Linked DNA regions of Homo sapiens: region 1 is linked to region 2. Evidence: fine-mapped expression QTL. A gene starts in region 2. The other region holds a variant in brackets. All regions are shown on one strand. Distances are between the middles of the regions.

What was found. PIP is the estimated chance that this variant, and not a neighbour inherited with it, causes the effect. A credible set is the group of variants that fine-mapping cannot tell apart.
Region 1: its variant is the best candidate, but not a certain one, in a credible set for the expression of ZNF580 in whole blood (INTERVAL, PIP 0.51).

What each region holds. Positions count from the first base shown.
Region 1 is chr19:55,698,418-55,702,851 of GRCh38, reverse strand. EPN1 (epsin 1) reads right to left here. Exons shown (of 11, transcript NM_001130072.2): 11 at 1-4,434. Among named protein-coding and RNA genes, the nearest start is that of EPN1, 25 kb to the right of the region's middle. RefSeq lists a silencer at 415-709 and an enhancer at 214-1,098. The variant A/G (reference allele first, on the strand shown) is at 2,901.
Region 2 is chr19:55,638,731-55,642,980 of GRCh38, reverse strand. It overlaps ZNF580 (zinc finger protein 580), which reads right to left and starts at 1,979. Exons shown (of 2, transcript NM_207115.2): 1 at 1,798-1,979; 2 at 1-484. The coding sequence starts at 472. It overlaps LOC107983998 (a long non-coding RNA gene), which reads right to left. Exons shown (of 2, transcript NR_171683.1): 2 at 2,182-2,855. It also overlaps a transcript of ZNF581 not described here. RefSeq lists silencers at 124-418, 1-419, 1,610-2,129.

The sequences.
Region 1 (4,434 bases), 60 kb before region 2:
CTGCACTCCAGCCTGGGTGACAGTGCAAGACTCCGTCTCAAAAAAAAAACAACAGTGAAAGAAAAGAAAGGAGTAAATGCGGCTTAGATGAACGAATAAATGCATTCACCCATTCTACCTGAAATCAATACCCAATTGATGTAAGAAACAGAAATCATTTAGGTAGATAGGGCGAAGAGAGTCCCCAGCAAAAAACTTCCTAACAAAAAGCAGCTTAGAAATTGCTCCCTTTCTCACCACACCACGCAGTTCAAAGAAATCACTTCTCCTAACAAAGAGCAGCCTGATCTTTCAGGCTGTAAAACACAGATAAGCAACTCGGGCACAGACTTGGGAGGTTCCTGGGTAATCACCAAGCCACATACATAGATGGGCCCCAGTGAAAACAGTGGGCCTAAAGCACATTCCTTTCCCTTTCTTTAGGCACACTAAGGGAAGCTGGAAGCGCGTGGGGGAGATGCCTGCAGCTGCACGAAGGTGCCTGGGAATGGGCACAGAAACACTCCCTCCCCTTTTAGCACACACAGATAAGCAGCAGCGCAGAGCAGCACAAACGAAGGGCCTGCCTGCAGGATCAAAGAATGGGGTGGGGGCCCGGCGCGGTGGCTCACGCCTGCAATCCCACTACTTTGGGAGGCCGAGGCAGGCGGATCACTTGAGGTCAGGAGTTGGAGACCAGCCTGACCAACATGGTGAAACCTTGTCTCTACTAAAAATACAAAATTAGCCGGGCATGGCTGCATGCACCTGTAATCCCGACTACGCGGGAGGCTGAGGCACGAGAATTGCTTGAACCTGGGAGGCGGAGGTTGCAGTGAGCCAAGATGACACCACTGCACTCCAGCCTGGGCGACAGAGCGAGACTCCATCTCAAAAAAAAAAAAAAAAAAAAGAATGGGGTGGGGGCTGCTAGAGACTCTGCTCGATGCAGACAGCACACCTGGTCCTAACTGGTTCTTCAGGCCCTAGGAAGAAAAGACACCCCTCCTCACTAGCCCATCTATAAAACCCCTGACATTTCTTCTACAACTTCACAACCCGTTCGGGACCCGTCTCTGTGACAGAGCTGTTTCTTCCTTTTGCCTATTAAACTCCTGCTCCAAATCTCACTCTGTGTGCATCCACATCCTTGATTTCCTCGGCTGTGAGACCAAAAACCTTAGTATTTACCACAGACAAGACCGTTTTACAGGAACAAGCCAGGCAGGGTCCCGAAAGCTCAGTATTTTAAGGGTCTAACAGGGAGAAGTTCTCATTAATGTCAGCTCCTTCTGAGAACTGCTGGGGTCAGAATAGTCCGGGAAAGGGGAGAGGAGACACAAGGTCCTTGTTCAAATCATGTATTTCTTAAGATACTAAGAGAAAAAAATACAGGAAACAGTATCATTTTTTTTTTTTTTTTGGAGACAGGGTCTCACTCTGTCACCCAGGCTGGAGTGCAGTAGTGCAATCTCGGCTCACTACAACCTCCGCCTCCTGGGTTCAAGCGATTCTCCTGCCTCAGCCTCCTAAGTAGCTGGGATTACAGGTGCCCGCCACCACACTAGGCTAATTTTTGTATTTTTAGTAGAGACGGGGTTTCGCCATGTTGGCCAGGCTGGTCTCGAACTCCTGACCTCGTGATCCGCCCGCCTCGGCCTCCCAAAGTGCTAGGATTACAAGCATGAGCCACAGCACCCAGGCGAAACAGTATCATTTCTAACCCTTTTCATGTGGCTGTCAGGACATGTTTCAAGCACCGAGTCCAGCATCTTGATAAGATGGGAACCAGGGAGCCCTCAGGGCCCCCGCGCCAGCCCTCCCACTGCAAACCCACACCACCCTGGCCGTCTGGAGCTTGTCCCAGCCCGGCTCCCCGTGACATCGGGACCTGGCCACTCCTGGACGTGATGCCCTAAGCTTGCCTCCCCTGCGGATGGATGTAGTGATGCTTGATTTGGGTGGATGAGAACATTCCCCACAACACAAGCCATTTTGCAACCTCACCTCCCGAGCCTCTGAGCTACCTTTCATTCCCCTCTGAGCACGCAGGGTTAACTGCTGTAGGGGTTACCCCCATCAATGCATGAGTTATACCTTTTGACAGTAACACACAACGATTACTAGAGAGCATGTCATTACCATTTTTAAGTGCTCCAGGGGAGGGGCCATGAGGAGGCTGTAGGTGAAACAGGAGTGGTTCAAATGTAAATGATGGCTGAACACGAGTGAGGCATTTGCAGGGGTGGTTATGATAATATTGTCTATAGTTTTGTGTGCTTCAAGATGTCCCTCAGAAAGTTTGTAATTATGGGCCGGGTGCCGTGGCTCACGCCTGTAATCCCAGCACTTTGGGAGGCCGAGGCGGGTGGATCACAAGGTCAGGAGTTCGACCAGCCTGGCCAATATGGTGAAACCCTGTCTCTGCTAAAAACAGAAAAATGAGTTGGCTGTGGTCGCACGCACCTGTAGTCCCAAGTCAGGAGAATCGCTTGAACCCGGGAGGCGGAGGTTGCAGTGAGCCGAGATCGCGCCACTGCACTCCAGCCTGGGGGACGAGAGCAAGACTCCATCTCAAAAAAAAAATAAATAATAATAATAAGGAAAGGAAGTTTGTATTTATGGAGCAGTCATTAAATAGTGCTTTATGGGCCGGGCACAGTGGCTCAAGCCTGTAATCCCAACACTTTGGAAGGCCGAGGTGGGCAGATCACGAGGTCAGGAGATCGTGACCATCCTGGCTAACACAGTGAAACCCCGTCTCTACTAAAAAAATACAAAAAAATTAGCTGGGCATGGTGGTGGGCATCTGTAGTCCCAGCTACTTGGGAGGCTGAGGCAGGAGAATGGCGTGAACACAGGAGGCGGAGCTTGCAGTGAGCAGAGATCGAGCCACTGCACTCCAGCCTGGGCGACAGAGC[A/G]AGACTCTGTCTCAAAAAAAAAAAATAGTGCTTTAGGAAATTATAAATATCCATACTAAAATAATGTGGATGAAACATAACATTATATAATTATCCCTGAAAGTAAAACAAAAGCATGAAGAAACATTCAATACAAAACAAACAGCAAAGGGAGCGATTTCTCGGCGGAAAGCATGCTGGAACCCTGTGGAAGCGTGGGCTGTCCCAGGACGTGCAGGCAGGCCTTAGACCCCTGCCACATACAAGCAATCACCGGGGGTCAGCACACTTTTTGTTGAAGAGCCAGATAGTAAATATTTTAGGCTCAAGGGACACTCGGTCTCTGCCACACTCAATGTCACCATTGCCACTGTAGTGCAGAAGCAGCCGTGGCTGCACTCTAATAAAACATTTTTTTTTACAAAAGCAAGCAGCCAATCCTTGGGCTGCAGTTTGAGAAACTCCAGGGGCACCTGTGATGTGAGTAGGCCGGTTTCTCACCACAGTGAAGGGCCTGGCAGGATGGCGCTTGAGGGATGAGCTGGACAACCCACAGTCATCACAGAGACAGACAAGTTCTCAAGAAATAAAACATTTCTGGCCGGACGCAATGGCTCACGCCACACCCGGGAAGCTAGAAGCACGTGTGGGGGAGATGCCTGCGGCTGCAAGAAGGTGCCTGGGAATGGGCACAGAAACTCTCCCTCCCCTTTTAGCACACGCAGAAAACCAACGCAGAGCAGCACAAACTAAGGGCCTGGGGGAGGCGGGAGGGAAGGCATTAGGAGATATACCTAATGTAAATGACGAGTTAATGCGTGCAGCACACCAACATGGCACATGTATATATATGTAACAAACCTGCGCGTTGTGCATAGGTACCCTAGAACTTAAAGTATAATAAAAAAATAAAAAATGAAATGGGGTGGGGGCCGCTACAGTGGCTCACGCCTGTAATCCCAGCACTTTGGGAGGCCGAGGCAGGCGGATCACGAGGTCAGGAGATCGAGACCATCCTAACATGGTGAAACCCCGTCTGTACTAAAAATACAAAAAAAAATTAGCTGGGCGTGGTGGTGGGCACCTGTAATCCCAGCTACTCGAGAGGCTGAGGCAGGAGAATCGCTTGAACCCGGGAGGTGGAGGTTGCGGTGAGCCGAGATCGTGCCACTGCACTCCAGCCTGGCAACAGAGCAAGACTCCTTCTAGGGGGGAAAAAAAAGGGCATTTCTTCCTATTCAATGAGAACATGAGGAAAAGGCAAAAGGCAGAGGCTGGCTGGGAGTGGGTTTGTGTGTGTAAAATTGAGTTTCAGTATAAAAAAAGATCAAGGCAGGACTGAAAGCCCTGAGGCTGGCATCGCAGCTCCAGAGCGAGGGGCAAGCGTAGGGCGAGGAGCGAGGATAGGGCGAGGGCGGGAGTAGAGCGAGGGGTAAGGCTAGGGTGAGCACAGGTGGCAGGGGACTCTGGTGGGCCTGGACTCTGGTGGGCGGGGTGACCCAGGAGCTCGGATGAAGCTCCTACGGGCTCCAGGAAGGTTCCCTCAAGTGCCTTC
Region 2 (4,250 bases):
GGCGTGGGCAGAGCGGGCAGGTGTGCGGCGGCCCGGCGCGGGCGCGGTGCGTGGCGCGATGCCGCGACAGGTGGCTGGAGCGCTTGAAGGCCTTGCCGCAGGCGCCGCACGTGAAGGGCTTGAGGTCCGAGTGCGACACGCGGTGGCTCTGCAGCCGCAGAGGGCTGGCAAAGACACGGGCGCACTCCGGGCAGCTGTAGCCCTTGCGAGGGCCGGGCTCTCCTGGGGGCGCCTCGCGCTGGGGCGGGCCCCGGGGCTCCTCCTCCAGCTGCACCGTGTATGTGTAGGGGACCCCATTGGCGTCGATGAGGAGGTGGCGGCCCAGCCGCGGGGGTCGGGGCCCCGCCGCCGAGGAAGGAGTGGAGGAGGGGCCTTCCGCCTTGGGGAAAGGGGGAGCCTTGGGGGGCGGTGGGTCCATGGCCTCCGGAGAGGAGGACCGAGGGTGGGGTGGCCGCGGCGGCAGCAGCAGCATCTGGAGCGGCAGCTGGGAGCGGCGGAGGGGAGATTAGTTAAAATTGCCACTTCCTTTTAGGAAAAGTTTCCTAAAATGGAAAGCATCCCCACTATCACTGCTTGTTACCCTTTGTGCGCCACTGACTACCTCCCTAGCAAAATAAAAACTGTGACTCCAGCCCGGCTCTCCCACGTTCCATCAAGCTGCCTCGGAGAGGGCCTCCAACTGAGCTCTGCAAAACCCCGCCACCACCTGCCACTCCTCCTGGGTCCACCTCTCACCACTCAGGTCAGGTCTGAGGACGTAGTCCCCCGACTTTTCTTCCCTTTTCTCCTCTCAACCCACCCCAGCAGACAATCAATCCCTAAATCTGTTTACCTCTTTACATCTTAGACCCCGGGCCTCCTGACCGCCGAGATTTCTCTAATCTGTGGTTTCTTCTTTTTTCCTGTTGCCCAGCCCCAGTTCAGTTTACTTCCCCTCCCTTTGCCGCCCCCTACCCCCCCACCGGCCCCCGTATCGGCCTCCTGGCCCTCCGTCCCCACTACATGCCGCAGGGCCTCCCCATCTTCATATTCCGTGGCCTCCCTCACTTCCTCTCTAGGTACCTCCCCAGAGCCCCACTAACCCAATTCCCCACATTTCACTAGGGCTTTTCCATCCTGTTCCTACACTTAGCACCTCGAAGTCTAGTCACCTCTCCCCACTACGGAACCCATCGTCTTACTACATCTATACACCCCAAAATGGCTCAAATGCCTTCCTTCTGTATACCCCGCCCCCCCAACCTGGCTACCTGCTACATTCTCCCCAAAGGCCCCCTTTTCTCTCGCCCCCCATATATGGCGGTGACATCGTTACTTCTTTCTGTACCCATCAGGGGCCTTCTCCCAAACCCCGTTATGCACACCAGGCTCCGGGACTCCGCTTCCCACAGCACCTCTCCCAAGCCCACTTTCCCCTCCTTTCTGTGTACGTCTGGCATCTCTCTTTCTCCTCGTGTTCACCTCTTCCAGGAGCCCCATCCCTCTCCCTGTTACACACAGCGTGGTCCCCCGCCCGTTCTTTTGCTCTGCTCCCCTTGTTTATGGGAACCCCAGCGCCCGGGCGTTTTCGCCCCCATCCCGCTACACACCGCCTGTCCCCTGGCCCTGGGGCCCCTCCTATTGCCTTCACTTCCCCAAGGAGCCCTGGCGCCTCGACTTCCCCTCCCGTCCCTCCGCCCGATCCTGCCGCTCCCGACCCCCACCCCCATCCCGGGTGGCTCCAGCGCACTCCCCCAGCCTGCCTGGCCCCGGCGTCGTCCCAGGGCCAGGCTCCTCCCTCCATCCCGGCCCCCGTACCCCGTGCGGCGGCCTCTCGGGTCCGGAGGAACGGGCCGAGGTCCCGGGCGGCCCCGGGCTTCCCCTGGCGAGCGCCGGCGGCGGAACCGAGACTTCCGGGCAGCTCCGGGCCGGCGGCGCCGGGGACGCGGGGACTGGGGGCGCGGGGGTGCGAGGGGTTGGCGGAGTCCCTGGGAAAAGGCGCCGGCCGGAAGCGCGCGAGCCCAGTGCGGAGGTTCCGCCGCCTGGAGCCGGCGCTCCCACCCCTCGCCTCTGCGGAGCGCCCTGCGGGGAGGGGACCGGAGGCGTGGGGTCCACTGAAGACGCCCGCCCCCGGCGGCCCCGCTCCCCTCCCACCTCCCGAACGGAACGATTCCGCCGCTTGACAAGAGATCGGCCAATAAACCGAGACTAAGCAAAGTTACGTCTTCGCCCTAAGGCCCACAAGGGTTTGTCCTCTTTCCACTGGGCCGTCGCTGCCTGCTCGGCCGTGGCCACCCACCGAGGTAGAGGGCGGGAGAAGGGATGTTCCTGCCGGCTGAGCAAATGTGGAGACCGAGGTCCAGAGACCAGCCATTGGCTCCGATGTGGCCGGGCCGTGATTCTCCACCCAGCAAATGGGGAGGCCGAGGCCCGGAGAAGGCCAGACGCTGCCAGATAGTTGGGGAAGGTATGTTCTTTCCACGGGGCACATGCGGGAACCGAGGCCCACAGAGGGCCAGACGGCTGCATGCGCAGGTGGGGAGGTGTGATATTTCCAGAAGGCATGTGGCGACACCGAAGCGCAGCGAAGGCCAGGCTTTGCCAGATGCGGAGGTGGGAAAGGCTGGCACTGCCCACGGGGCCCACTGGAAGCCTGATGCGGGCTCGCGGGCTGCGCCAGGTCCTGGGGCACTTGAGGCCCGGGCGCTGGCTGCGCATGCGAAGGACTCCGGCGTCGAAAGCAACGCGCGGTGGCGCTGCAGCCGCACTGGAGAGCTGCACACGCGGCAGCACTCGGGGCAGCTGCAGCTCCTCCTCCAGCCACGTGGCGCCACGGCCTCGCAGGAGGGCGGCAGCAGCAGCATCTGCAGGTGCAGCTGAGAGTGGGGGACAGAAGAGGAGTAACTGTCACAGCGAGCCCCAAGACCCTGGGGTGCCACAGCTACATCCTAGAGCACTGTCCATCAGAACTTTCTGCAATGGTGGAAAGTTCTATGACAGTCACTAGCCACGTGGGACTCTTACACTCTTGAAATGTGGCTGGTGTATCAGAGGACCTGAATTTTAAATTGTATTACATTTCCCATAATCAGCACGGTGGCTCACACCTGTAACCCCAGCACTTTCGGAGGCCAAGGCGGGCGGATCACCTGAGGTCAGGAGTTCGAGACCAGCCTGGCCAACATGGTGAAACTCCTTCTCTACTAAAAGTACAAAAATTAGCCGGCCGTAGTGGTGCTCCCCTACAGTCCCAGCTACTTGGGAGGCTGAGGCAGGAGAATCGCTTGAACCCAGGAGGTGGAGGTTGCAGTGTGCCAAGATCGTGCCACTATACTGCAGCCTGGGCAACAGAGGGAGACTGTCTCAAAAAATACTAATTTCCCATAATCAAAATTTAAGCCACATATGGCTCCTACCTTATGGAACAATTCCAGAGACCACTGTCAACCAGTTGTAAACTGGAGGCCCAAGGGCCCAAAAGGCCTCACAGTTATATTTGGTTTGGGACACAAGGTACTTTTTAAACATTTTACTGGGCAGTATGTATATTTTTTGAGACAGAGTCTCACTCTGTCGCCCACGCTGGAGTGCAGTGGCATGCTTCTGGCTCACTGCAGCCTCACCCTCCCAGGCACAAGTGATCCTTCCACTTCAGTCTCCCAAACAGCTGGGACTACAGGCGTGGGCCACCACACATTTTGAGCCGGACCACTCTTTGTTGTGGGGGCCCATCCTGTGCACTGTAGAGTGTTGAGCAGCATCCTTGGCCTCCACCCACCAGATGGCAGTAGCACCCTCCCCCAACCCCAAGTTGTGACAACCCAAAATGTCTCTACACATTGCCCGTGTCCTCTAGGAGGCAACATGGCTCCTAGCTGAGAACCCCTGGTCTACTTAGACAATTATCCAACCTGAGTGTCTTGCCAAGATCCCTGATATAGTTAAGATGTCTGTCCCCTCCAAATCTTTTTTTTTTCTTTTTTTTTTTTTTTTTTGGAGATGGAGTCTTGCTCTGTTGCCCAGGCTAAAGTGCAGTGGCGCAATTCTAGGCTCACTGCAACCTCCAACTCCCGGGCTCAGGTGATTCTCCTGTTTCCACCTCCCAAATAGCTGAGATTACAGGTATGCACTACCACGCCCAGCTGTATTATATAAAATATAACAATTTTATATTTTTGGTAGAGACAGGTTTCACCATATTAGCCACCTGGTCTCCAACTCCTGACCTCAGGTGATCCACCTGCCTCAGCCTCCCAAAGTGCTGGGATTAC